4 linked regions of the Homo sapiens genome follow. The protein of the gene in region 1 interacts with the protein of each later gene in a pairwise test. Each region holds a gene or a part of one and is shown on either strand. Other genes may lie near its edges.

Region 1 (7,031 bases):
CCACAGGATTCTAGCCAGCAGGATGCCTGCTTAATCCTCGTAAAAGGAAACTGGACAACAAACGAGATGGAGGTAAAATGAAATCCCAAAGGAACGCCTCCAAGGATCCCGTCTTCTACCTGTCAGGAGATGTTCTATTTTTCTAACTTCCCCACCTTCAGCATAACAGGATTTAGTAACTGTTTAGACCTTTTGAAGAACAAAGACAAAAATAGGAAGTTGTGTCAGAGGAGTGCAGTCATCTCTTATTCATGGTAGTGTTTTGGTTCGATTTTGGAGCATCCACCAGGTTCGCGTACAGGAGAAGAAACACGGATGATCTCTGTCTTTATTTTGGGGGAGGACAATCCGGCCTTCTTGGGACTGTTCCAGCCCACCTCCCAGATGCTTCGGTCAGTCTGATCCACGAGATATCTCAGGCTGGGAAGAACACATCTTGGGCCAACTTCCACAGCAGCCATGCGTCCAAGGATACAGAATCAGGCAGGCCGATAAAAGGATTTTGACTTGGGTTTCACAGGAAGGAGGTATGCCATCAAACCCCACTGTAGTCAAGGATCAGAAGGTGCTTTTAGCAGGAACTGAAGCTTTTTAGTATAAGGCCCACTTAGGGTGCCAGCACCCTGACAGTGTCCCTTTAATCCACTTCAGATCTGGTTGACTCATCATCAGGTGTTTCCATTCACTTTCAAAATTACACAGTCACAGGATAACAGTGAGATCCACTGCTAAAGGGTAAAGGGTCAGAGGCTGAAGAGTACTGTGTAATGTCTGCATGAGATTTGTTTTAAAAAAGTCTGAATTGGCATGGTATTTTGAATGCTGCTGGAACTGTAATAAAGGTTCACCTTTAGGAAGTGCTGATGGCACACCAGGGCCCAGCACACCGCATGCACTATTCTATAGAATTTGCCCAACACCCTTTGTGCTACAGATTACTATTATACCCATTTTACAGATAAAGAAATAAGAGGCTTTGTGAGGTTAGGGAGGCTGAGGTGGGCAGATCACGAGGTCAGGAGATCGAGACCATCCTGGCTAACACAGTGAAACCCCGTCTCTACTAAAAATATAAAAAATTAGCTGGGCGTGGTAGCAGGCACCTGTAAGCTGAGATCATGCCACTGCGCTCCAGCCTGGGCAACAGAGCGAGACTCCGTCTCAAAAAAAAAAGAGGCTTGGTGAGGTTAAGTAACCTGGTCACACGTACAGCTACTGAGTGGCAGAGCCTGGACTCCAACCCCAGGATCATGTGCCACCAGAACTTGGCCCTTAGCTACTGGGCAGATGCTTTAACCCACTTATGCCTCATGTTCCATTATTGGGACGCTAACCTTTTAGGAATTATTTGTATCCTACTGCTCAAGATCATCATTAAAGTCTGATTTTTCACAAAAAAGTTTGTAACCTCCAGCATAAATGGGTTAATTGGTTCCTGTGTCTTAGCCCTGAGCCCTAGAAATATCCAGTGGACTTTTACAATAGGTTTCATTATTACCATTTACACTCATGTATTTTTCGACCATAATGGTATGTTAGAATGGAAGCTGCTGGAAAAACAGGGCTGGCCTGTGGGAACTTTATTTAACAAGTTCTCCTCTGACAGCAGCAGTTAGTGGTTCTGAAGGGAAATGTGGGATTGGGCCAATTTTCCTTCCTTTCCCAATACAGCTACTTCAAAGATCTGTCTAGACCAGGTGCTGGTGTCCTGCCCTGCCTGGTAGAGCAAGTTGTCCTGTGCTATGACCGCAGTGGTCTGCCTGAGGCTGATCATGGGTATAGATTGGTGTAAGAGGGTCCCATGTAGACATCCCTAAGAGGGAGGCTGTAGTCAGGAGTGAGGAGACAAGGCTAATGGGAAAGAGGCTGTTAGCCCTGCCCCTTGGGGTGGTACTGTAGAGTCCCCTAAAACAAAGCAGAACCAGGAGACATTGGCTCCCACCAATCAGTACAAGATATTAGAACTTTCTGATAATATGATGATACCACTTTAGAAGGTAATTTTTTCCTTTTTTTTTTTTTTTGAGACAGAGTCTCACTCTCGCTCAGGCTGGAGTGCAGTGGCACCATCTCGGCTCACTGCAAGCTCCGCCTCCAGGGTTCATGCCATTCTCCTGCCTCAGCCTCCCTGGTAGCTGGGACTACAGGCGCCCGCCACCATACCTGGCTAATTTTTTTTGTATTTTTAGTAGAGACGGGGTTTCACCATGTTAGCCAGGATGGTCTCGGATCTCCTGACTTCGCGATCCACCCGCCTCGGCCTCCCAAAGTGCTGGGATTACAGGCGTGAGCCACCGTGCCCGGCCTTTCCTTAGTTTTTTAATCCCTTGTGGGGTCTCTAAAATAGCATGAAGCTCTCTCCCTGTGATGAACCAGAGCAGGTCCACTGCAATCAAAAGGGGACAGAAAGGAGCGGGAGAGCACCAGGAATTATTATGTTTACTCCTTACTGGGAGAGCTATACCAAGAGAACACAGCAGATGCTCAATAAAAACTTGCTGAGTTTGGCTGGGCGCAGTGGCTCATGCACTTTGGGAGGCCGAGGCAGGCAGATCACCTGAGGTTGGGAGTTCCGGACCAGCCTGACCAACATGGAGAAACCCTGTCTCTACTAAAAATACAAAATTAGCCGGGCGTGGTGGTGCATGCCTGTAATCCCAGCTAACTAGGGAGGCTGAGGAAGGAGAATCGCTTGAACCAAGGAGGTGGAGGTTGTGATGAGCTGAGATCGCGCCATTGCACTCCAGTCTGGGCAACAACAGCGAAACTGTCTTGCTGAGTTTTCCTGAAAAACAGTCTTAGAAACACGTGGCTGAGTCCTCTTGACTTTACCCCAGCTGCAGACTGTACTATCTATAGCAAAACCACATGGCGGGGTGGTAGGAGTGGATCCACAGCTGCCACTTAAAGCCTAGAATTTAAACACAGAGCAACTCAGCAGCCAAGTGTTAGGATGAAACAGAAGCTGAGCTTCTGAGCAGAATACGTCTTTGAAGCCAGACATATTTAGCCGGAATTCTAAACTTACCCACCCATTCACCACTGATTAACCAAGATCCAAAGAGGCAGCTTGATCCAGCCATCCACGCAATGGAGATGCTGAGCACACATATGACTGCCACTACAACCAACAAGCCACCGGCCCTTTCACTCCAGAGACGATGGTCTTATTAGCAAAAGGCCACTGCTCCTCAGTTGCATTTTCTTGCCTGGTGTGCCTGCACTTGGCACTCCAGAAGCAAATCATCCTTTGGCAGGTTCCACATCAATGCAGGGGTTGGGGACTGCTTTCTCCTTGTCCAAACCCTGAAGGGGCCATTCCCAACTGCACTGTGTTGGAGTGGGCCTACATAGCTTGATGTGAGTCCAGGGGAACAGCAGGTTCCCTGCATCCATCCACTTGTGTGCTTACCTCTGACTGGGGAGAAGGCTTCCTCTACCTTTCAAGCAATGATGTTTGCATTCAAATGTCTCTGTCAAAGGCGGATTCCTGATAATCTGTTCCTCTTCACCATACCAGCACATAGGCATATATACAAAGATCCTGCTACAGAAACTTTAAAGGAAGAAAATCATGGTGATCAGCCAGGGCCTTCTCCCTTTTCCACTGTTCAACTCAACTGATTTCCTCAACTCAAAAATGTGGGAACAAGCTTTTCTAGCCATAATACTCCCTCCACTGCAAATGATCTTCCTGTACAAATAGTATCATACACATCCTGATATGTCTGTATGACAAAGCCAGAGTCATCTGTCTCTTCAACTTGCATCTGACTCACGTGTGAGGCTGCAGGAGTCAGGCTGCCTTTCCTCTTTGCCATTCTTCACAGCCAGGAGTCATTTTTGTGGCAAAAATTGAAAAAGACAGATCTATAGGTAGATACTTAAGTCAACTATTTAAGAATTGTTGGGATTGAAGGATCTGAGGGCACCTGGAAGTTCACCTGATTCAATCTTAACTGTTCTGACATTCAGCCTTTGTTTGAACACATGCAGAGATAAGAACATTCGTTTATTCGTGCAACCCCTCCTGTAGGTACAGGCTTGGTGGCAGCAGGGCAAAGGAGGACACAGAGCTCTCTGCATTTTGATTCCAATGTCTCAATGTTTTTGGTGCTCAGAAAGAACTTTATCCTCTTCCTTTTTTTTTTTTTTTTTTTTTGTCTCTTCCTATTTCTGCCCAAGGAATGAGTCCAGGAGTAGAATCCTGCTCCTTCTCTTCTGATAAAAACTGCAATTGTTTTCTCTTCTTTCTGAGTACCCAGCATGGGTTGGACCAGCACCTTCTTTAGTCTTCTTGCAGGAAAGGGACTTCCCGCTCTGGCTCTGGAACCCAGAGATGTTTGGCCTGTGATCCAGACCCAGTCTTGGCTTTTCTGAGAAAAAGTAGACTCTGGTTTACTCTTCTGGATTCTCCATTCCGGTCATGTAGCTTATGGCTGTTGCCCAAGTTCTCTTTACTAGCCCTTGGAAAATAAATCCTGATGTACAATAGTTGTTGGCTTTGCCACATCAGCTGCTTCCTTACTGGGCCAACTTTCCCACTGTCCCTGCTGCTCTCAGTTTTTCTCTCCTCCTGAGCTGGGCTTCAAGGGCTGTAGCCCTGGGTCTCCTGTCCAGTTTCTGCCCTACTCCACCATCTGGTCTGGGCTTTCTGAGTTTTATCATGAGCACCCTTCTCCACTCAGCAGTTTTCAACCTCTGGTCTCTGACCCCAGTTCTCAGACTGGGAACTTCCATATTGAAAACTTGACAAAATGCCTGCTAACAGCTTGTTACAGCAGGTTTTGAGTTATCCGGGGGAGCTGTCAGGAAGCCAGGTTAGGATGAAGCAAGACAAGAAACGACATTATTTCTAGGGCTGGGGAAGCCCCAGTCAAGACAGTCAGCCACAGCCTGATAACTCTCCCTGCATGCGCAAGCCCACCGCTTGCAACCTGGAGGAAGCTCCTGTCAGCAATGGGCTCTAATGACATGTCAGAAAACAGAACAGACAGCTTAAGAGACCTTCACTACTACTTCCCTGCTTTCACAGCAGGTGTCCTGGTGGTACAAACCCCAGGTATGAAGCTGCAAGGAGGGACCCAGTTCCAGGACACCAAGAACACCCAGCTACTCAGCAATCTCCTTCCACCGTGGACCTCGGCACATGAACACAGCACAGGCACCCAACGATTCCGCCAAGGCCTGCAGGAGTGTTGTGCCTGGTCCAACCCAGAGTGTCAACAAGCATGTCTTTCCCAACATTGTTACAAAGTGCAAGGATAGAGTCTCCCAAGTGTGCGGCTCCTTTCACCTACCTTGTCTCCTGGGATCCTCATAACAGCCCTGTGAGGTGGGAAAGGGGGCTATTCTTAACCCCATTTGAGAGATGAAGAAACTCAAGCTTAGAGAGGGAATGGGAGAACTCGAGGCCACCTAGTGAGAGGCTGGGACTAAACCCTGGGTCTCTTGACTCCTGGTTCAGTGCTGCACCCACTAAGCAGGCTTTCGGAAGCATTGGGACAAGCAAGAATGCCCCAGGAGATAAGGACATCCCAGTGCTCCCCACTGGCCAAAGCAAAGCACACCATGCAGAAGCATCCTCACGTTCACAGATAGCTGCTCCAACCTCCTTTAGCACAGACACAGTGCAAGCCTCCACTGATGCTGTGCTTGCAAAACACAAACATCTAGCACTTCCAACAGCCAACTAGACCCGGCAGAACCTTGGGGACAGGCTTGACTTCACCCAACACAACACCACTGCCACAGAGTTAGACACTACTTAGGCCCACCTTGTCCTCAAGCATGCTGCCCTGCTCAGAGCACCTTCCACTTTCCTCTCTCAAGGCCACAATCTACCTGAGTTTGGGCTCTCTTCTGACTACTTGTGCTACAAAGTGTCTGCTCCTTGTTTATCTCCAGACTCAACCTCCTTCCCTGGCTGCTGAATTTCATATGCCAGTGAATCAACCAGCAAAAGCTCTCAAGCCGGACCAACCTCTTTTTCTCTCACTTTGGGACCTACTAACTCCCCCACCAACCTCAGTGGTTCAGTGGTGTCTGCAAAATGCATCCATCCTGCCATCTGAGTAGCAGGTGAGAGTTATGGGCCCAAGCTTGGGAAGAACCTCTCTCCTTCTGTTTTGACCTGCTGGTCTCCTGGGACTTCCCATTCTAAGCACCCCAAGCTTCTTGGGAAGGAAGAGGTAGCAAATAGCTAGTTGGGTGATGAAGGTGTTTATCATTCAGTGGGAAGTAGGGGGTGGCTGTGCAAAGAGTGGAGTCTGAGGCAGGGTGATTGAGACACCCCTAGGCCTCCCATACACGCTCAGGCCCATCCTCTGGAAGTGAGGAAACAGTGGGCAGATTACCTCGGTTACAGATACTGCAGAAGTTGCTGGGCCCCTCGCTGTGCTTCTTCAGGTGGTCTGCCATGTATGCTGCCCGCAAGTACTTCCCACACACCTGGCAGGGCACCTTGTCTTCATGACAGGCCAGGTGGGAGCGCAGACGGTCTCGGGTGGCAAAAGAAGCATTGCAGGTCTGAAGGCAGAAAAGAAAATGGGATGATGTGAAACCCAGCACCCCACACCTGACTCCCCACCAAGTGCACCATGAAGCAAAGGCAATTTCTGGCCATCACATGACCTCCCTTTATAAAGACAGCTTTAGAGTTTGGCTCAGGCTCCCTACCCAGAATGCCAAGAGGCTGCTCTTATTTCCCATGGTACCTCCTTACGGGACACTTGAGTGGGAATCACTGGTACTAACTAAATGACTACTGGAAATGTACCCAGGACATGGCAAGCTAAGCTCTATACCCCTCTACACAATGAAGAGTTACACATTTGCTCATCCTTAGACATTAAGAATTGACTTTAGGTGCATTAGCTATAATGCACAGAATTACATTTACATGAATTTACAGATGAGTTATTGGCATATAAACCAGCCTTCCTGTTCTGTATCCCTGGGTTTCCCCTAGTTTTATACAAAGAATTATATTTGTTCATTTTATTCAAAAGTGACATTAGTCTTGGCCAGGG
Region 2 (7,000 bases), on another chromosome or scaffold:
TTGAACCTGGGAGGCGGAGCTTGCAGTGAGCCGAGATCACGCCACGGCACTCTAGCCTGGGTGACAATGTGAGACTCCGTCTCAAAAAAAAAAAAAAAAAAAGAAATGCCCACCCCTCCCCTGCCTTACTGCCCCTAGTGCAGGAGAGTGTCCAAATAACATGAAGTCCTAAAGCCACTTTTTGGATTCCGAGAAAGAGCATTTGTCCCAGGCAGTCTTAGCTGGGTGACCTTCAGCAAGTCTCGTTTCTCCCGAGTCTTACATTCCTATTCACACAAGAAGGTATCAACTCCCACTTACACAGCACTTTGCCATTTCAAAGAGATGTTTTTAGTGATTCGTTTTTTTAAAAATCTTCACAGCAACCCTTTAGACTGGCCGAGATCATTATCCTCACAGGGATATTATTCTCTTAAGGGTCCCTGACGCCGGACGCTGCTCCCAGCACAGAAGGCGGGCGGATGCAGCTACAAGGCCCACCTGCTTGGCCTGCAGCCTTGAATGTGCCCTGCTCCAGCAGCTGGTCCCCTCTCACTCTGCTCTGCAGCCCTGCTGGACTCTGTGATCTGTCAGAGTGAAGAGGGCTGGAAGGGCAGCTGCTGCTCAGCTCCTTGTATGGAAATAGTTGCTCACGGACAGATAAATGCAAAGACAAGGTGCCTGCATGGTGGGCAAGCCCTCCAAAAACTCAGCCAGAGAGGACAGGACCAACAGTTCAACCGTTCTGTCTTTCAGGGATGCTTACAAACTCCCAGCCTGCCAGAAGGTCTCTCCTCAAAAATTAGAGGGAAGTGTCTTTTTTTTTTTTTTTTTGAGACAGGGTCTTTCTCTGTCCTCCAGGCTGGAATGCAATGGCATAATCACTGCTTATTGCAGCCTCAAACTCCTGGGCCTAAGCGACCCTCCCACCTTAGCCTCCCAAGTAGCTGGGACTACAGGCACATGCCACCACGCTTGGCTTGTTTTTATTTTTATTTTTTTGTAGAGATGGAATTTCATTATGTTGCCCAGGCTGGTCTCAAACTCTTGAGCTCAAGCGATCCGCCTGCCTCAGCTTCCCAAAATGCTGGGATTACAGGCGTAAGCCTGCTGTGCCCAGCCTGGGGTAGGTGTCTTAAAGAACATCCCATCCCTCAAGTACCCAGATAACTTCACAATATTTTAAATTCTTTTTCTCATTCCTTCTTCTTTTCTTCTTTCCCTCTGTCTTTCCTTCCCTCCCTGCTTCATTCTGCAAGTATTTATTGAGAATCTGTTATGTGCATTGAGCTAGGTAATAGAGGGCCTTAAAAGATAAAGGAAGGCGGGGCGCGGTGGCTCACGTCTGTAATCCCAGCACTTTGGGAGGCCGAGGCAGGCGGATCACAAAGTCAGAAGATCGAGAACATCCTGGCCAACACGGCGAAACCCCGTCTCTACTAAAAACAAACAAACAAAAAACAATTAGCTGGGCGTGGTGGCGGGCGCCTGTAGTCCCAGCTACTCGGGAAGCTGAGGCAGGAGAATCGCGTGAACCCAGGAGGCGGAGCTTGCGGTGAGCCGAAATCACGCCACTGCACTCCAGCCTGGGCGACAGAGCGAGACTCTGTCTCAAAAACAAAAAAGATAAAGGAAATACCGACTTTGCCTTCAAGCAGTCCCCAGGCTGGGATGGGACATAAACACATATAAACAAGGCAGGACCCACATTCCACAAGCATGGTAACTTGCTGTAAGTTTCGAGGAAGAGAGACTACTTCAACTGAGGTAGGAGAGGCAATCTAGAAAGGCATCACCTACGAGATGAGGAGGCATTGTTCTGACCTCGAGAGATAGGCTGAGTTTGTACTCAGAGAAGGTTGAGGTCTTCCAGAAAGAGGCACTGATAGGCAAATGTGTCGGTGTGGGGGTGTACATATAGGAGACAGAGTTAGCCGTTGGATGAGATCATGAGATTCATGTTTGCACTGACTATTAAATACCTTGACATAAGAAGTCAGTGGGGGCTGGGGTAGTGGCTTACACCTGTAATCCCAGAACTTTGGGAGGCTGAGGCAGGAGGATCACTTGAGCCCAGGAGTTTGAGACCAGCTTGGGCAAAATAGTGAGACCACTGCCTCTACAAAAAACAAAAATAAAAAGTAGCCAGCCATGGTGGCAGGCACCTGTAGTCCCAGCTACTCCAGAGACTGAGGTGGGAGGATGGCTTGGGCCCAGCAGGTAGAGGCTGCAATGAGCCATGATTGTGCCATGACACTCCAGCTTGACCAACAGAGTGAGACCCTATCTCAAAAAAAAAAAAAAAAAAAAAGAATTAAAAGGTACTGTTTCCTTGGATCAAGCCTGGAGATTGTCAATTTATTTTTAACATCCCTTTTTTTATTAAAACATCAATTCTCAAGATTTTCTCTGCCACAGCTCACACACCCTACTAAGACCTGTATACATTTCCATGGCCTAGCTGAAGCACCCCCCTCAATTCATGTTCAGAACACATCCTGGGATGCGAGTGGGTAAAGATAGCATCATTATGGGGACAACCTGCCATTTGATCTAATCCATCTTTAAAAGGCAATCATTCTCAGACTTCTGGATTTAAGAATTATTGAGCAATATTTAGCAATACAGCTCACAACAGGTTGTGTAACATGTCGACATGTCTTGCCTCTGCAGCTAAAAGTGCCAAATGAAAAGCAGAATTCTAAGTCGACTGTGGTTATTCTCAACATCCAATGCAAACATTTAAGGCTGTCACTTGAATAGTTTAGCACTTACTCATTTTCTGAACTAATTGTTCCGGAATTTCTCTAATCCTTTTATTAAATTATTTCCATTTATAGCATCATTTATCCCCCAATAACCAACCACCAGCTGTTATCAGATTAAAGGCCACATGTGTGTTTGTGTGTCTGCCAGGGCTGATCCTGCCATTCCCACATGCTCACACAGAATTACACTGACTAACCCCACCTGCTCTGCCGCACCTAAGAAAGCTCATAACTGGTTCCATTTTCAAAAAAAGCCTGGTTGACAGTAATTTATTTACAAATACTCAACTTTTTCTCATGTTCCCCACTATCTTTTTCCCTATATACACACTATATATACATAATCTCCGGGTCACTTTCAACTTTGTAACCAGAATAATTTAGAGACTGCTCAAGTTTTTATTTAAAGAACTTTTAAAAAAAAATCCACTAACTGTCCTTGCTCCTTCTTAACATATTTTGTGATGAATTGGATCAATCTAGAAAATTCTTTTTCGTTGGGGTAGACTGAATAATAGCCCCCCAAAAATTGTCAATGTCTTAATCCCCAGAACTTATAAATAGATTACATTACATGGCAGAGGAACTTTGCATGAGTGATTAAGTTAAAGACCTTGAGACAAGGACAGTATCCCAAATTTCCTAGGTGGGCCTAATGTAATTGCAAGTCCTTATAAGAGGAGGCAGGAGGTCAGCAGGGAACAAGATGTTACACTGCTGGCTTTAAAGATTCAGGAAGGGGGCCATGAGCCAAGGAATGTGGGCAGCCTCAAGTAGATGGAGATAGCAAAGAAACAGAAGTGTCAGCCTGTTTTAGACTTCTAACCTCCAGAACTATAAGATAATAAACTTGTGTTGTTTTCAGCCATTGAAGTTACAGTAGTTTGTGACAGCAGCAAAGGGAACTAAAGGCCAGGTGCCTAGGGGCTCACGCCTGTAATCCCAGCACTTTTGGAGGCTGAGGCAGGCAAATCTCTTGAGGTCAGTAGTTTGAGACCAGCCTTGGCAACATAGTGAAACCCCATCTTCTTTCCCTCTCTCTTTCTCTCTCTTTCCTTCCCTCCCTGATTCTTTCCACAAGTATTTATTGAGCATCTGTTATGTGCATCGAGCTAGGTAATAGAGGGGAGAACTAGACATAAAGGAGTAATAAACAAATGAGTTATGCATATACTTAAAAATTGAGGGCATCAAAAGAAAACAACAATTCATAAAAGAACAAATGTTAAAAAACTTTCACTTCTCTAATAATAAAAAATTCAAGTTAAAACAATACTAAAAAAAGTTTTAACAGATTAAGTTGACAAACATGAAAAAGTGAAATAGTTTTCTGTGTTGGCCAGTATTGGGATGAGGAGACAACCCCTGTGCTGCTAGTAGAAAAATGTATGATCTCCTTTGATGAGGTAATTTGGAAATCTATATCAAAAGCCTTAAAAACGTATTTTGAATTCAAAATTTATACTTGTAGGAATTTGTCTTTAATACATAATCAGAGATATATGGGAAGATCTACTAGGAAAAAGAAGAGCACACCCTTGATCTCCAAAACATAGCATCTACAAATTAGTTCAGCCCTTGTAGAAAGCAGCCTGGAGAGTTCTCAAAAAACTAAAACTAGAATTACCATTCGACCCAGAAATCCCATTACTGAATATCTACCTGAAGGAAAATAAATTATTCTACCAAAAACACACCTGCACTCATATGTTTATCACAGCACTATCCACAGTAGCAAGGACATGGAAACAACCCAGGTGCCCATCAATGGTGGATTGTATAAAGAAAACCTGGTGCATATATACCCTGTAATACTACACAGCTGTTAAAAAAGAACAAAATCACGTCCTTTGCAGCAATATGGGTGCAACTGGAGGCCATTCTCCTAAGCAAATTAATGCAGAAACAGAAAACCAAATAACATGTTTTCATTTTGAAGTGGGAGATAAACATTGGGTATGTATAGACACAAAAATGTGAACAATAAACACTGGAGATTCCAAAAGGGGAGAGGGAGGGAGAGGGTGAAGAATTGAAAAGCTACCTATAGGGTACCATGTTCACTACCTGGGCAAGCAGATTATTAGAAGCCCAAACCTCAGCATCACACAATATGCCCATGTAGCAAACCTGCACATGTACCCCCAAAATCTAAAATGAAAATAAAAACTAATATATGGCATCTAATTAAATTAATATACAAGTCAACAAAAAGAATACTATGCAGCCATTAAAATGGTGTAGAAGGATATTAATGGTTTGAAAGTTGTTCACAACATATTATGAAGTAAATAAAACAGGTTACAAAATAATCCAACTTTTTTGAGAGAAAAAGTGTATACAACTTAATTACATTGAACCTGAAATTATTAAATGCACCATTTTTATTCACTACTAAGAAATCAAAAAAAATCTGCCAATTAAACCATAATCAGCCATAGATTTTAGGATACATTATGATTTCAGAGAAGTTAAAATATGTATTCTGGAATTGATAAATATAGCATATTATGTATGTCCCATTTTCCCTCCATTCTGAAATAAACTTCTTTTCCCATATTTTAATATCCAGAATTTAGGGACATTTTGTGTCTTACAATCAAAGCATATATTTAATGTAGTGTTTCTGCCAGGCGCAGTGGCTCACGCCTGTAATCCTAGCACTTTGGGAGGCCAAGGCCGGCAGATCACTTGAGGCCGGGAGTTCGAGACCAGCCTGGGCAACAGGGTGAAACCCTGTCTCTACTAAAAATACAAAAATTAGCTGGGTGTGGTGGCATGCACCTGTAGTCCCAGCTACTCGGGAGGCTGAGGCAGGAGAATCACTTGAGCCCAGGTGGCAGAGGTTGCAGTGAGCCGAGATCTCACCACTACACTCCAGCCTGGCTGACAGAGCAAGATTTCATCTCAAAAAATAAAAATAATAACAATAATAATGTAGTATTTCTTCCAGGACCCCCACCCCACCTATAACTCATCAGAATCAAGAAAACATTTTATATGCATTGTATTTGCATCAGAAAACAAGGAGGATATACACCAGAATGTTAATAGCTGGGGTTTTTTTTTTTTTTCCAAATGTTAAGATTGCAGAGAATTATTATTTTCTTCCTTAACAACAACAACAAAACCCAGCATTGCGAATTCCCAGTTTGACCCCATGCTATGTAGAAGCTAGGAGGATCACTTGGGCTAAGGTACCACAGAGCTCCCACTCACTTTCCCCCTGAGAACTGGAAACTCTCAGAGTGGAGAGTTAAAGGGGCAGAGAGCAACTTTTACCCACTCGTGCATCACCCCCGGTATCTCAACTACCATAAAATACTGTGTCCAAAAAAGGCAACCCCTTGGTAACGGTACTTCACTCCCTTCCAGCCCCCAACCACAACACCTAAGAGGATGGCAAATAGACTTCATTTTTAAATGCTAGTTCTCATTGATTGGTAGTAGCCCCCTGGAGGACCTGCTGGAAGGGATTCTGAGGCCAAGTTGGAGTTCAGGAGGAAGGTGTGCCTGATTGATTAGTCATGCCTAGCACTTAATCCAAGTGCTACATAATAGCTAGGCCTGAAAGAATTTTCCCAGCTTTATTCTTGCTCTCTTACCTTCAAGAAGAGTACCTGCTTTTCCGACCATCAAAGGTGAAGAGATCCTAACCAGACTAAGGACCATAATTTAAGGGCCTGGATTGTTACTGTTAATGCTAAACAAAGCCCATTCTAACAAAGACACAATTCAGGTTTACAAACCAGCATTTCACAGTATGGCATTATATTTTAAAGCCAAATAACACATATATTACTGGCCTAGTAATTACACTTCTGTGATACACACCTCATGTATCTGCTTTCCAAGAGATAGGAGCAAAAATGTTCATAGCAACCATTCACAGGAGAATGGAAAAATAAATTTGGTACACAGACACACACAAAGTTTATTCATTTTATTAGTTTCACAAAACCATACAGATGAATAATAAACATTTCATTGAAAGAAACAAGTGGCATAAAACCACATATAATATTGTACCTTTGTTTAAAAGATCAAAAACAAAACATAACTAAATTATACATTGTTTAGAAATATGTGACTGTGATAAAACTATTACTGTTTTTTTTTTTTTTTTTTTTTTTTTGAGAAATAGTCTTGCTCTGTCACCCAGGCTAGAGTGCAGTGGCATGATCTTGGCTCATTGCAACCTCTGCCTCCCGGGTTTAAGCGATTCTCTCACCTCAGCCTTCTGAGTAGCTGGG
Region 3 (7,031 bases), on another chromosome or scaffold:
CAGCCTTCCACCCCTCTCCCCCCAGACAAAAAATTATAGCCAGTTTAGCATTTACTCTTTACAAGGAACTTATTTTCTGAATCTGTCATTAAAAAGTACCTTAATAACTCTCTGTTCTACCACAGTATCCAACCATTCAATAAAAGCCTCCACAGTGGCATTCTTCTTAAGGAGATCCTTCAGTTCTTGGAACACAGTGATAGAGTCATCTACCCAGGAAAAAAAAAAAAAAGAAAGAAAAGAAAACAGAATATTGTACTCTACTTGGAATCCAAGAGAAAACCTAAAACTTGGAATCATCAATACTTTGATAGCATGAAAGGGAAAGACAGATAAATGTGTGAAAAGAATTAATATCATATCTTGAAAACAGTAACAAAAAAATCCTTAGTACTGTACTCTTCAATGGTGTGTGTGTGAGAGAGAGAGAGACAGGATCTTGCTTTGTTGCCCAGGCTGGAGTGCAATGACGTGATCATGGCTTACTGCAGCCTCAAACTCCTGGGCTCAAGTGACCCTCCTGCCTCAGCCTCCCAAGCAGTTGGGACTCCAGGCACGCACCAACAAGCCTGCCTAAATTAAAAAAAAAAAAAAATTATAGAGCAAGGTCTTGCTGTGTTGCCCAGGCTGGCCTTGAACTCCTGGGATCAAGCAATCTTCCCACCTCAGCCTCTTGAAGTGTGCCCGAAATTTTAATAAGTGTATATATCTTGGTATATATTGAAATATAGGTTTAAATCTTATATGTGTATTCACATACTAGGGAAGATTAAGTTGTTTATGTAGTTAAATATTCATTTTGAGTCTAGTGTTTTCATTAAACGGAACAGATTAGTTAAAAGTGAATGAATGAACCTAAGCTTGGTGATTTCCTGCTTTCCAAAATATCTTTTATCTTTAGTAAAAGTTAATTTCTTCTCAGCAGAATTGAGCCATTTACCTGAATAACGTTTTATCATGTAATATTTAAAAGGGCAGTTTAAGACTATCCTTTTATTAAAGGTTTTAAGGTTTACTGAATCTCAAAAGGTAATCCTATTTTATGTTAGGAAATAAAAAGTGGAGTTGAGATTGGGCCCCAGAGAGCAGTCCATAGTTTGTGCTCCAGTGTATAGGAGGCTGCAGGTTTTGTCTTTTCAAAGACAGAGGGAGGAAAAAATAGTGGCTGTTATCCCTTGAAATTCAAGCCTAGTTGTCTAGCCATGCATATTGGCTTGGTAAGCTCTCTCAGATGGTCCAAACCTGAGTAGAGAGTCTGCTTTGAAAAGCAGTATTGTGCTGAGATACCATTTTGATATTTATCACACACCACAGGATGACAAGACTATAAAACACATGTAAATTTCTATACATGTAATGTAAAACTGAAAGAAAACTTACAAAACTCAAAACAATTTGATTATTTTCAGATTATTTCCATTTCATTTATTTCTAGGTAATGAAATTACAGATGACTTTTATTTTCCTCAATATTTTCTATCTTTTCCATGGTGAGTAATTATAACTATTTTTTATTAGAAGATAAATTTTTTTAATTAAAAATATTTTTATAAACCAGGTTTTTTTTCAATCAGATGTGATTTTTCAGCCCAGAACACCTTTGACAATGTGGGGAAACATTTTTGGTTGTCTCAGCTTGGGGGAGGCTGCTACTGTCATCTAATGGGTAAAGGTCAAGGATGCTGCTAAACATCCTACAGCACACTGGACAGGCTCCTCCAACAGAGTTACCCAGCTCAAGATGTCAATTTTCTGAGCTTAGAAAACCTTGTTCTAAACAAAGAGAATGGACTTACGTTCAGTGTAGATACCAGATTCAGTGTCTGTGCTGCCTGAAATGGTAAGAAGGGCTTGAGAGCCAATGCTGTTCAAATCAACCCTTTCAATATCAGACACCATAGAATTAACGACATGCTGGTCAAAGAGAGCTGGTCTGGCAATCTGCATAGAGAAAGTAAAGAAGACACTACACTATATCATTTCTAATGTATCTAGAAGAAATTTTTAGCTATCAGAAAAATAGTTCCTTGAGATAAAAGTATCATAAATAACTTTTTTCTTATTTTAAAGACAAAAGCAGTAGCTGAGACTCATGATCATCTCTGTTAAAAGTCTGAAAATTATAGGAGATACACCTAATGTAAATGATGAGTTAATGGGTGCAACACACCAACAGGGCACATGTATACATATGTAACAAACCTGCACGATGTGCACATGTACCCTAAAACTTAAAGTATAATAAAAAATAGAAAAAGAAAATATAAATGGATTCTCTTTGTCCATGATCACAAAATAAGAATTTTTAAATGTTACATTTCCTATCTGAAATCATCTCAAGCTTGTCTTTTAAAATTTAGAAGGCAAGAAACCTTCATAAAGCAGATAATCATTTTGGGGAAAGAGAAATATATTTTAACAATATACAAATGCATCATTCTTAACTTATGAATTACTTTTGCTCTATTTAAAAGAGCCATGATTAGTCGGCAGTTTAAAATGTGTTGAGTTTGTGGTTTCACAATATTAAGTATCACACAGGCTTACTTCTCACAACCTTAATTTGTACCAATTAGATTCACATGGCAAATAAATGTTTAATTGCATTCAAGTTTTTTAAATTTCCAATCACAGAGAAGTTGCAAAGATAGTGCAGAATATTTCCATATACTCTCCATCCAGCTTCTTATCATCTTCTGTAACTATTGTATATTACCCAAATTATGAAATTAACATTGGTACAATACTATTAACTACAGACATAATTCAAATTTCACCAGCTTTCCCACTAATGTGCTTTTTCTATCATAGCATTCACTTCTGGGTCTCACGTTGCATTTAGTTGTTGTCTACTTAGCTCCCTTCAATCTATGAAAGTTCCTCAATCTGTCCTTCTCAGAAGATTCATTTTTTATATGGTGACTCAAATGCTCTCGACTTAGCAACCAACATACCTGGGCAAGATGTAAGAAAGATGTTTGTCGTTTCAGAGAAGATACAAATCTTCGCACAATAGGTATTTTCTTGTCAGTTAGAGCTTCTGGCAAGTTTTCCAAGGATGAAACAACCCACTGTTCCCAATTTTTAGCAAAATTTCTTATGTCTGCTAATAAGCTACAAAGAAGGCTATGTGTTAAATGCTTCATTGTTAAAAAATGCATTAAACAATCATATTTTAATTGAGGTATACTATTATTCTATGGTTTCATAAGCAGTACTTTTGAAGTCAGACAGCCTAGATCTGCCATTTATCATCTTTTCTTATGCTATATTTTTAAAATGTTTGTGGGTGCATAGGAGGTGTATATATTTATGGGGTACATGAGATGTTTTGTTATCATCTTGGTCAAAACACTCAAGCTCTTCAAACTCCACTTCAAGTACCCAATTCAGAGTACAGAATAGATATTTAAAGACTACAATTGATAATTAAAAGACATTATTGATCAGGCTAATACCAACTATCATATAGATGAAATAATCTGGAGGAAAAGGTAAATAAAAAGTAAAATTTGTTTTACCAAGCAACATCTATTTTTGGAGCACCAACTATGTCCAGTCCTATATGAATTTGTACCCCCAAAATACTAAAATAAATTTTATCATTTCATTAGATTTTGTTTTCAGAGAAAAAGTTGGCTTTTTTTTTTCAGAATTCTATTGTTCTTATATTGAAAAGGTTTTTTTTTTTTGAAAAATCTTCTGGTATTGTTTCAATAAACTATTTGAGATTTTATTCCTTTGTTAAAAGAAGGCAGTAATTTCATCATGCCACTTTCTGATTTTGTAATTAAGACAAAAGTTAATAATAAAATACAATAATTTCTCCTATAGTTTTTATTCTTGTGGTTATTTTCCATTAATTATCTTTTTTATCATACTCCAGCTAGTTTCCATTGAAAAATTTCTCGAAGATCAACAGTGCTTAAATCTATTTTTCACTTTAGCCGCTCTCAAATTAAAGGGATTGAAGGATTGTTTCACCCATTTTGTTTATTGAGGCCCAGCTATAAGACACATCTCTTCCAGCAAATACAAAGGGACAAAAGTAGAAAATAGTCTTCTTGATAAATGAATAAATTACTACCTAATGTTTTCTTCTAATATAATGTATAAAGTTAAATCCTATACTAGGAATGCTCATGTTTTATTAACTGAACATACCTTTCAGGCATTTCTTGCATTGTTGCAGGAATGAGTACATCTGTAAGAACCTTAATCATAGCAAAAGAGGTTAATACAAATCTTTACTTAGTATTTCTATAGAAAGACATATTATTGGTCAACTACTTTTTATTCCTAGCTTCCTAGAGAATAACATGTTAACTCCTTTCTCAAAGTTATAATTTTATCTCCAAAATGAATGTATGTATGAGTTGTGTGTGAGTGTGTATGACAATAAAAACAAGAGATAGCACTGTATATGTACATGCTCAGTATGTTAATTACCAATGGATTGGTCCATGGTAATCATATACCGTTTTATGATGAAAAGCTGACCACTTTCTAGAGGTGGGAGGAAGATTTTTGTAGAAGCTCATCTTACACCGTTCTACTTACAGAGCTCACTGTGCCTCTCTGGGTCCACCATGAGGAGGAGAAACCAGGTTCATTTAAAGATATTTAAAGTCAGGATGTTTATACTAGACTAAAAAAAACAGATCACTTAAAGGGAGAAGTGTGTTTTAAAAGTATTTCTTGGACAAACTGAATGACAGTCCAAAAAGCTTTGGTCTGATGGAAATTTGTGTGCATGAGCCCCAGGTCTTTTCTTATACTCACTCACGGAGCTGCCTCCCCTCCCCTTTTGGGAGCCTTGTCAAGTGTTAAGCATTACAAACAATTAATGCAAATTAAACTGTTTTTCTCTAAATAATGGCATTCATATTCAATCCAGAAAAAAAAAAAAAAACAAGACAATCCTTACTCTCCTCTGAAATTTTTTCAACTTGAACTTGAACTAAAGGCAGAAAATATATTGTACTTTATTCCTCCTTTCTCCTATCCTGTGATGAGGAAGTACTGGACAGAGGATAAAAATATGCACTCTCTTATTCAAGTTGTCTCATTACTTCTTGGTCTGCTTAGGGGCTTCTGGACTTAGTTTATCTATAAATAGCTTTTGCTTTACTTTTCTGCAAAGCTGAGAATCTGATAGTGGCAACTAACTTAGAAGGATTTTATTTCCTAAATGTTTAACAGCGTCCAGCTTGGGTTTTCTTGCCAACTCAGATTATTTTTTAAAAGGAAAGCTTTTGTTTTTCCTTATGGTAAGTTAGAAAGCAAATGTAGGCAAACTCACTTTAAAGTACCCACATTGCAATATAGTTTTATCCATCAGCTTAGAACTTGTAGCCACCAGGGAAGAGACTGTCAAGAATTAGCCTCTTTCTGTCTTCCATTAAATGTTTGCCTAGAAGGACAATCAGTTTGTCCTTATTTAGGATGTCTTCGAGATCCTTCTGCAGACACTTAGGAACTCTGATTTGGTTTGAGAAGAGAATTAGACATTAATGCATTAAAGTTAGAGGTTTTTGAGATTTTCAAGTTATTAATCTCATAAGGGTGCCTAATTCTGCTTTCTGCCAAAACACTGGCATTGTGAAAAAAAATCCACTGTGTTATTTTAATCTGAAAACACCTTAGAGAGTTAATAAAATTTAACTAAGTTTTCACATATTAATAAGTGTGTCACATATAGACTCATTATTAGCTGTAAAAAGAAATTGAGTTTGTTTTACTTAATGTAAACTTCAATTAAAACACATACACTATTAAACGTGCACTATTAAATTGCTTGCTTTCTCATCAAAAAAAAAGACAGTGTATATCCAGCCATAAATAACATATTTACTGAAAATATATTGCAAGAATTTAGATAGAATGCTACGTAAAGAAATAAATGGCTCATGTTTAAGACATCCCAAAGTGCTTACCTTATAAAGAATTGAGTCACAAACACAGAAAATATCAATGATAACAGGATTTTCGAGCAGGGGAAGGAGATGGTCAGGCATTCCTTGCCAAAAGTGTAATAAAAAATGCTGGATCTAGTTGCAGAGTAAAAAGTATGTTAAGATTTTTTTCTTTAACATGAACTCATTAAGAACAGAACATGAAAGTATATATAATAGGGTCAAATAAAGCATTCTTTGTCATTCTTACCTCTTCAAAGTTTCCATTAATTGCATTGTCCAGGATACACTGGCAGTGAGTTTTGTACATCATTATGAGCGTATCAACCTATTTCAAGGAAGAAAAAGCTTAACCAAAGCATCCTTTTAACACTGCCTTTTCTTGTTAATTTGTTCAACACAGATTTTTTAAAAGATCCTATTACGTACCAAGCAGTATGCTCAATGTTGAGGACTCAAAAATTAAGGCAAAATTCTTATTTCAAGGATCTTACTGCCTTGTGAAGGGAGAAAAGCAAACAAATGGACAACTACAGTATAATATGAAAAAGGTAATTTTTCAGAGTACTATGGACCAAAGTAACATCCTAGTTTTATGCCTACTAAAATATTAAATTTTAAAATTTAATTTTTAATTTAAATTTAAATTTTTTAAAATTAATTTTTGGGTAAATAAACATAAAGTAGTAAAAGTAGTAACAAAGATTTGGATAAATAAACATAAAGTAGTAAAATACATCAAATCTTCACACAGTTTTATGAAGTGGATGCTTGGAGCAGTATGGCATAATGGTTTCAAATTTTGTCTCTGGAGTCAGCTCAACTTGGGTGCCCACCTTCACTGCACTACTTACCAGGTATGACTGCAAAAGTGGCTTTGTCTCTGAGCTCCCAAGCTTTTTAAGTAGGTAGTAATAACATATTACTTACATGGTGTTAAGAAAATCAAATAAAATAGGATGTGACACATATGGAACAGTGCCTGGCACCCAGTAAGACCTTACTAAACATTATCCAGAGTTAGTAATAATATCAAATGATGCATTTTCCAAAAAAAAGTTTCAAACATTGAATGTCTATTATGAAAAGTCTCTCTTTTCAAGTTACCATGGATAT
Region 4 (7,816 bases), on another chromosome or scaffold:
ATCCAGGGAGATGTTTGCTGTCAATGTCCGCAGGGTTCAAGGCAGAAGACAAGGACAGTGTAGCCTGAACTGGGTGGGAAAAGAGAGGACAGCAAGGCCTCCAGTGCCCAAGGGGGCTTGTTGGAGTTGAGGGGTGTCACTGTAGTTTAGGAGATGAGGGTGTGTAAGGCCCTCTAATATGACCTCTAGGTTTACAGCCTCCTGCCATCTTCCAGCCTCCAAAACCCAAAAATTCAGGCCAACGCTGAAGCTTTATCTGGGAGGGGCATTTTTATAGGACCCATAACCATTGACAGTTAATATCAGCCACAATAAGGGACCTTCAGGAGCCGCTTTCTAGACCCAGGGTCTCTGGGAAGCCTCATCCCACACCCTCTCCTGCTGTCCAGGGCCATCTGGGAGCTGGTCTGAGTGTCCACTGAGTCCGTTTATTTGGCGGTCTGTCTCACTGGGTTTGCACGACAGTTTGGACATCTCTGTGTGGCTCCCTGTGGCTGAAGGCTTGTCGGATTTTCCGTAAGAGGCTCCCCCAGGGCTGTCTATGGGTCCGTGTTTGATATTTGGGTGGATCTTTGGGAACGCGAGTCCAGGAGAGGGTCCATTCGTGGGAAAACCACCCAGCATTGTGTCACGCGCGTCCGTGTGAAGAGACCACCAAACAGGCTTCTTGTCCCATCCCCAGTCACTAGGAGAGTCCAAGTGCCAGGGCAGGGCTCAAAGGTGGCGCTTCATGTGCAAGGCCAGGTGGTCAGAGCGCGAAAAAGCACGTGGGCAGAGCTGGCAGCGGAAGGGGCGCTGCCCCGTGTGTTTCCGGTAGTGGCGGGTCAGCTCGTCCGAGCGCGCGAATCTCCAGCCGCAGCCTTCCCACGTGCAGGCGTATGGCTTCTCCCCTAGGGGACAAGGAAGCCATAAGCGCCACTGTCTGCCCAGTCATGTCCCCGGGTCCCCTGCATCTGGCCACACCCCTTTACTCAGCCTGGGCTGGGACTAGGATGAACAAAGTGAGGCCCCTAGGGCACAAAATTTAAGGAGGCACTCACTCTCAGAGGCCAGCCAAGTCCAAGTCCCGCCCTCTGCAACCCTTCTTCCCCTGTAACTACAGCGGGCGCCGCGCCCTTTCTCATGTCCGGGGCCCCGCCCCCTCACCTGTGTGCGTGCGCAGATGCGCCTTCAGGTGGGAGCTCTTGGTGTAGCTCTTGCCGCAACCCGGGTGCGCGCACGTGTGCGCTGCCTGCCTCTTGCGCGCCCACGAACGTCGGCCTCGCTTGGATGGCGCGGTCTCGGCTATCACACCTGGATCCTCTGCAGTCCCCCCGAGTCCAGTGCCCACCGTCCCGGGTCCCAAACAACTCAGGAAGGAGGGGGACGTGGCGGGACCGGGCGCGGGTCCCTGGAGCCCGCGGAAGAGCTGGAAGTGCCCTTGGTACTGAGGCGCCGGGTACATCGCGGGGTACCCGGACAGTAGCCCGTAGGGGGCGCCCGACGCCGCAGGCACTGAAAGCCCGGTCCGCGGGAAGTAGCCACCCGAGGAGCCGGCGCCGGGCCCCGGGTACACCGGTTGCAGCGCCAGCGCCTTGGGCTCGGGGGCCGGGGCTGGAGCCAGGGCTGGGCCCACGAAGGCGTCGGGAGCCCGGGCTCGCAGGGCAGGGCGCACCCAACCCGAGTGATCCTCCGAACCCAAAAGCCCAGCCACCAGCCCCGGGCCGCCAGCATATGCGCCCAGAGTCTCGGGCGGCGGCGGATATTGCGCCCCGGAGGCCTCGCTGGGCGCCAGAGCGCAGGTCTGGGGCGCGCCACCGGGCTCCGGGCCCGAGAAGTTGGTGAGGAGGAGATCCAGGTCCCAGGTGGCGTCCGCGCCCCTCTCATCGTCCTCTTCCTCCCCGGGCTGGTCCTCAGACTTCACGTGGAGGGGCGGCTCCGTGGGGTCAGGAGGACCCGGGCCCATGTCCTGCGCCTCTTCGGAGCGCCACCACTGCGGGAGGGAGCAGGCAGCTCGAGGTTCGGTGGACACTGGGGTGCCCTGCCCAGGGACATCGCGGGCTGGACACTCTGACGCAGAGGCTTTGGAAAGGGGTCTTGTTTGCCTGTCTGTCTGTCCCACTTCCCCAACACTGCCCCTCTAACCGCCCCTCTCCCCGCTCCCCCCCCAGCTCCAGGGACAGAAACCGATCAGGTCTGGCTGGAGACAGGAGATAAGACTTCCACTATCTGGAACCACACTCGGGGATGGGGGAAGGGGTAGCAGAGCTGCTGGAGATGGAAAACTGGCAGGGGACGGGGGAGAGGATGCCAGCCTTGACTTAGTTTTCCCCCAGAACATCCCTCTCCTTCCCTGTCTCCCAAAACAAGATTAATTCCGAAATTTTGGATGTCCCCCAGACACACTCATCATTTCCCGCTGATATCTGGAAGATTGTCTGTGAGCCTAGATCTCGTTCCTTTTTTTTTTTTTTTTTCTTGAGATAGGGTCTTACTCTTTTGCCCAGGCTGGAGTGCAGTGGTGCAGCTCACTGTATCCTTAATCTCCTGGGCTCTAATGATCCTCCTGCATCAGCCTACGGAGTACCTGGGACTACAGGCACACGCCCCCATGCCTGGCCTAATGTTTTTGGTATTTTTTGTAGAGATAGGGTTTCACCATGTTGCCCAGGCTACCTTCGTTTTCTATTACCGAAATAGATCACACTTAGAACCTCAAACCCCTAGACCACCCTCCTCACCCCCTGCCAGACTAAGCTGAGATCTCCTCTCCTGGACTGAGCGTACCTCAGTCCTGGTTAAGTCTCTTGATTTCAGGTCAAGATGCAGGTCTGGACCCCAAGATCTGTGACTGTGGCCCTGGATTCCAGCCAGCCCACCTAGACCCCACCTTCTAGGCCCCACCTTGAGGAAGTCATCCTGTGTGTCCGGGAAGGGGCCCAGGGCGGTCAGTGTGCTGATGGAGGGCAAGGCGGTCTCGGCTGTGGCCATGGCTGGCTGGTGCCCACCCTGGGCCTCAAGCCTCCTCTTCCTCGGCTGCCTCGTGAACTCTGAGGCTGTGATAGCCCCTTCGAGGGCTCCTCTCTGTCCTTAGCTGATTGGCTGCAGCCTCTGATAAGGCAAAGCAAGGCAAGGCGGCGGGGGGGCACTGTTTCTGGGGCACAAACTTCACGTTGGCCTGTCTGGGGCTGGGGTTAAAGACTAACCCTGTGTCCAAAGCCAAGTCAAATATCAAGGGTTGGGGGGTTCAGGGTTTGAGGGTCCAGGTGCTGGGTAAAAACAGACATTGGGTCTCCAAAGAAGGAGAGACTTGGGGGTCTTCCCTCAGTTAACTTTCCTGGAAAAGGCAGAAAGGGTATTCTGGGAAGAAGCTGTGGGACCCCCTGTCCCCCTGATTGAGGCTCCACAGCCCTCCCCCTCCCCAGTAAACAGCAACAACCGTGCTGATGGCGGGACTTGGCACGAGCTCCCCGCCAAGCATTATCAGACACCCCAGACGTTGGAGGCTGCTATCAGGTGGGGGCCCAGGCCAGCTAGAGCTCTGTCCTCCGGTGAAGGGGAGGGCTGGGAGTTGGGTCTTCAAATTAGCCTGGCGTTCAATTTGCCTGGGTTGGGACCTCCCAGGGTCTCAGCCCTGCAGCAGGAGGAAGCCCCTGACAACTGGCCCACCATTGTCTACTGGGGACCCTTGGGTGGCACTGCATGGGACTGCATGGAGGCTGGTTCAGTGCCAGCTGCTTTAGTGCGATGGGGGCAGCCAAGGGAAAAGTGACCCTCTCTCCTCCTGGGTGGGATAGGACCGTTGGATCAAGCCACAGGCAGTACCTGACCTGCAGGAGACCAGTGCCCTGGCTCTGGGCCTGGCTGCTCCTTGATTCTGCCCAACATGAGGAGAGGATCTGAGTTTCTACAACAGGAACCTCCACTCTGGTGCCCTGGGAGCCTGGGAAGGGGACATGGATACGTATTACAGACACATAACTCATAGTCACTCATTGGAAGACTGAGGCAGGAGGATCACTTGACACCAGGATTTCAAGACCAGCCTGGGCAACATAAAACCTATCTCTCCAACAAAAAGCTGTGAGTGGTGGTGCATGCCCATAGTCCCAGCTACTCAGGAGGCTGAGGTGGGAGGATTGCCTGAGCCCAGGAGGTCGGGACTGCACTGAACTATAATCACACCACTGCAGTCCAGCCTGGGGCACAGAAAGCAAGACTCTGTCGCTGGAAAAAAAAAAAAGTTGGGTGGCCATCTTTATTCCTGGCAGATCAACCTGGGTGACACAAACAAAAACAAGGCCAGGTGCGGTGGTTCACACCTGTAACCCCAGCACTTTGGGAAGCCAAGGTGGGGAGATCACTTGAGGTCAGGAGTTCGAGACCAGACTGGCCAACAGGATGAAGCCCTCTCTCTGCTAAAAATACAAAAATTAGCTGGGCATTGTGGCACATGCTTGTAATCCCAGCTATTTGGGAGGCTGAGCTGGAGAACTGGTTGAAACTTGGAGGCATGGGGCCAGGCGCAGTAGCTCACGCTAGTAATCCCAGCACTTTGGGAGGCCGAGGCAGGCAGATCACCTGAGGCCAGGAGTTCGAGACAAACCTGGCCAACACAGTGAAACCCTGTCTACTAAAAATATAAAAATAGGCCGGGGATGGTGGCATACACCTCTAATCCCAGGTACCCGGGAGGCTGAGGCACAAGAATCACTTGAGCCTGGGAGGCAGAGGTTGCAGTGAGCCAAGATCATGCCACTGCACTCCAGCCTGGGCTACAGAGTGAGATTCTGTCTCTAAAAAACAAAAACAAAACAGGCTTGGAGCAGTGAGTAGTGGCTCATGCCTGCAGTCCCAGCACTTTGGGAGGCCAAGGTAGGAGGAATGCTCGAGCCCAGGAGTTCAAGACCAGCTTGGGCAACATAGCGAGATCCCATCTCTAAAAACAAAAACAAAAACACAGTTACTCACAGGACCATGCAATTACATAATGACATGAGTTCCTGTTCCCTCAGTCACACTGATCATATAATCCGTGCACATATAATTGTGTGTCTGTCTATGTATATGGACTATGCACAGACATACAATTCCCAGGCACTAAAACACAACCCTATGCTATATTGGTTACACAATGTCATAGCCAAACAATCTCTAAAACACAGAATTCATAATCCACAGGCAGGCACACAGTTATACAATCCTACTGACACAATTTAGCCGTAATTGAGCAGACACACATGGGGAGTCAGATACATTGTCACAGAACTTTTTTTTTTTAGATAGTGTCTCTCTCTGTCACCCAGGCTGGAGTGCAGTGGCATGATTTTGGCTCACTGCAACCTCCACCTCCTAGGCTCAAGTGATTCCTCTGCCTCAGCCTCCCAAGTAGCTGGGATTACAGGTGCCTGCTACCACGCCACGCTAATTTTTTTTTTTTTTTTTTTTTTGAGACAGAGTTTCACTCTTGTTGCCCAGGCTGGAGTGCAATGGCATGATCTCAGCTCACTGCAACCTCTGCCTCCTGGGTTCAAGTGATTCTCCTGCCTCAGCCTCCCGAGTTGCTGGGATTACAGGCACCCACAAGCAGGCCTGGCTAATTTTTGTATTTTTAGTAGAGATGGGGTTTCCCCATGTTGGCCAGGCTGGTCCTGACCTCAGGTGACCCACCCTCCTTGGCCTCCCAAAGTGCTGGGATGACAGGCATGAGCCGCCCCAGCCAGTCAAAACCTACACTTTATACAGTCACACCACCGGTCACTTTTACAATATGTAAAGTAATTATTTAGTCACAGTTGCATAGCTACCAGTGCCCAACCGTAGGGGATGCACCCAGTTAAACACAGACAAACGCAAGGACATGGCATCACAGGTCCTGAGAATCAAGACACACACATTTCTCAACAGATACACAATCAGAATGGGTGCACCACAAATGCACTACACAAAAAGACAAAACAGGCGGGGCGCGGTGGCTCACGCCTGTAATCCCAGCACTTTGGGAGGCCGAGGTGGGTGGATCACTTGAGGTCAGGAGTTTGAGGCCAGCCTGGCCAACATGGTGAAACCCGTCTCTATTAAATATAAGAAAAAAGGCCAGGCATGGTGGCTCACACCTGTAATCCCAGCTACTCAGGAGGCTGAGGCAGGAGAATTGCTTGAATCCAGTAGGCAGAGGTTGCAGTGAGCCAAGATTGCGCTACTGCACTCCAGCCTGGGCAACAGAGTGAGAATCCGTCTCAAAAAAAAAAAAAAAAAAAAAAAATTAGCCAGGCATGATGGCATGCTTCAGTGGTCCCAGCTACTTGGAGGCTGAGGTGGGAGGATCGCCCAGGAGGTGGAAGCTGCAGTGAGCTATGATCGCGCCACTGCACTCCAGCCTGAGCGACAGAACGAGACCCTGTCTAAAAAGAAAAAACAAAAACAAAACAAAACAACCACATAGACTCACAGAATCACACAAGTTCACACACACACACACATACACAGACACAGACACACACACACACACACACACACACACACAGAGTCACAAGTATCTACATGTGCTTCCTGGGACAGACTGGCAGAAAGGTTTGCTAAGATCGCCCACTTGGAGCTCGTCTTCCCCACAACCAGCACCCAATTAGAGAACTCGAGTCTGGCCTCCTGGGTTCAGGAGGACGCCTAGTGCTCGCGCCAGAATTTCTTTGTTTAATTCTTGACTCCCTCCGCACACACCCCCTGCAACTGACCAACCAGGAGTGGGCCGAGCCCTTTCCTACGGCCAATAAGAGGAGAAACCCAGCTGGCCAATCGGTTTCCCGCACTCGTCTTCCGCCCCTACCCCGTCCGCTTCTTAAAGGGGCTAGCCTATCTCTGTCTGGGCCCCCCGATTTCCACAGGCAAGGCTACCTTAGCCCTTTTAAAAGGCAGAGCTGCGGAGGGGGCCGGATTCTAGGAGGAACCAATGAAAAGCCTCACTCGGCCTCCGCTCCTCCCACTTCTTGCTGAGGTCAAAGGCCTGCGTCAGTTGCACTGTAGCCTCGGCAGTGAACCGGGAGGTACTACCAGGTAAGGAAGGTGCGGTAGCCCCAGCCGTGGGTGAGAGGAGCTCCGCTCTGACACCCCCGCTCCTGTAGGTCGCCGTCGTTGCTCCGCTCGCTCTGAGAGAGCATGGCCCTGAGAGGCGTCTCCGTGCGGCTGCTGAGCCGCGGACCCGGCCTGCACGTCCTTCGCACGTGGGTCTCGTCGGCGGCGCAGACCGGTCAGTGTGGGGTCGGGAGTGTGGAGGGAAGGAGGGAGGAACTGGGGGTTTAGGGACTTTCCGGGGTGACTTTCCCGTTCTGTGCTTGCAGAGAAAGGCGGGAGAACACAGAGCCAACTGGCTAAGTGTAAGGACCTCTGGTCGCACCGTGTGTCTGCTGCCCCTGTTCAGCTGTCTGTCTGCCGCAGGTGGACTCTGTCCCAGAATCCGAGAGCTGCCCGAGCGGGGTGGCAGGGTCGTGGCCAGGGTCAGAGGCACTAAGGCAGTGAGTGCGCTGTGCCTGCGGGGCCGGAGAAAAGTCACCTGATCAGTCTCGCTTGCAGCTCGCACTAGCCGGGGGGCGACATGGGTGTTGGGGGGTAGGGCTGATGAGGGTCCGAGAAGGGAGGGCACAGTGATCTTGCGGACTGGACCGAGGCGAATTCCCCTTCCCAGCCTCGCGTCCCGAGTTTGACTGGCAGGACCCGCTGGTGCTGGAGGAGCAGCTGACCACAGATGAGATCCTCATCAGGGACACCTTCCGCACCTACTGCCAGGAGAGACTCATGCCTCGCATCCTGTTGGCCAATCGCAACGAAGGTGGGCGGGCTG

What was found.
Region 2: the proteins of PATZ1 (region 1) and SMYD1 interact in binary tests that used the Homo sapiens proteins (3 or more experiments, as listed by UniProt).
Region 3: the proteins of PATZ1 (region 1) and RFX6 interact in binary tests that used the Homo sapiens proteins (3 or more experiments, as listed by UniProt).
Region 4: the proteins of PATZ1 (region 1) and KLF1 interact in binary tests that used the Homo sapiens proteins (3 or more experiments, as listed by UniProt).

Annotation. Positions count from the first base shown.
Region 1 is NC_000022.11:31,329,336-31,336,366, forward strand, and holds part of PATZ1 (POZ-, AT hook-, and zinc finger-containing protein 1 isoform long C), read right to left. Parts: intron 6,529-7,031; coding exon 6,357-6,528; intron 6,082-6,356; exon of another isoform or gene 6,014-6,081; intron 1-6,013. UniProt on the Homo sapiens protein: Transcriptional regulator that plays a role in many biological processes such as embryogenesis, senescence, T-cell development or neurogenesis. Interacts with the TP53 protein to control genes that are important in proliferation and in the DNA-damage response.
Region 2 is NC_000002.12:88,070,825-88,077,824, reverse strand, and holds part of SMYD1 (histone-lysine N-methyltransferase SMYD1), read right to left. Parts: intron 1-7,000. UniProt on the Homo sapiens protein: Methylates histone H3 at 'Lys-4' (H3K4me), seems able to perform both mono-, di-, and trimethylation. Acts as a transcriptional repressor. Essential for cardiomyocyte differentiation and cardiac morphogenesis.
Region 3 is NC_000006.12:116,915,220-116,922,250, reverse strand, and holds part of RFX6 (DNA-binding protein RFX6), read right to left. Parts: intron 6,244-7,031; coding exon 6,166-6,243; intron 6,051-6,165; coding exon 5,937-6,050; intron 4,215-5,936; coding exon 4,165-4,214; intron 3,115-4,164; coding exon 2,955-3,114; intron 1,942-2,954; coding exon 1,797-1,941; intron 210-1,796; coding exon 100-209; intron 1-99. UniProt on the Homo sapiens protein: Transcription factor required to direct islet cell differentiation during endocrine pancreas development. Specifically required for the differentiation of 4 of the 5 islet cell types and for the production of insulin.
Region 4 is NC_000019.10:12,884,171-12,891,986, forward strand, and holds KLF1 (Krueppel-like factor 1), read right to left. Parts: upstream 3,032-7,816; 5' UTR 2,971-3,031; coding exon 2,884-2,970; intron 1,973-2,883; coding exon 1,147-1,972; intron 891-1,146; coding exon 715-890; 3' UTR 252-714; downstream 1-251. Other genes in the region: GCDH (glutaryl-CoA dehydrogenase, mitochondrial isoform a precursor), read left to right, coding at 7,135-7,225, 7,317-7,352, 7,661-7,804. UniProt on the Homo sapiens protein: Transcription regulator of erythrocyte development that probably serves as a general switch factor during erythropoiesis. Is a dual regulator of fetal-to-adult globin switching.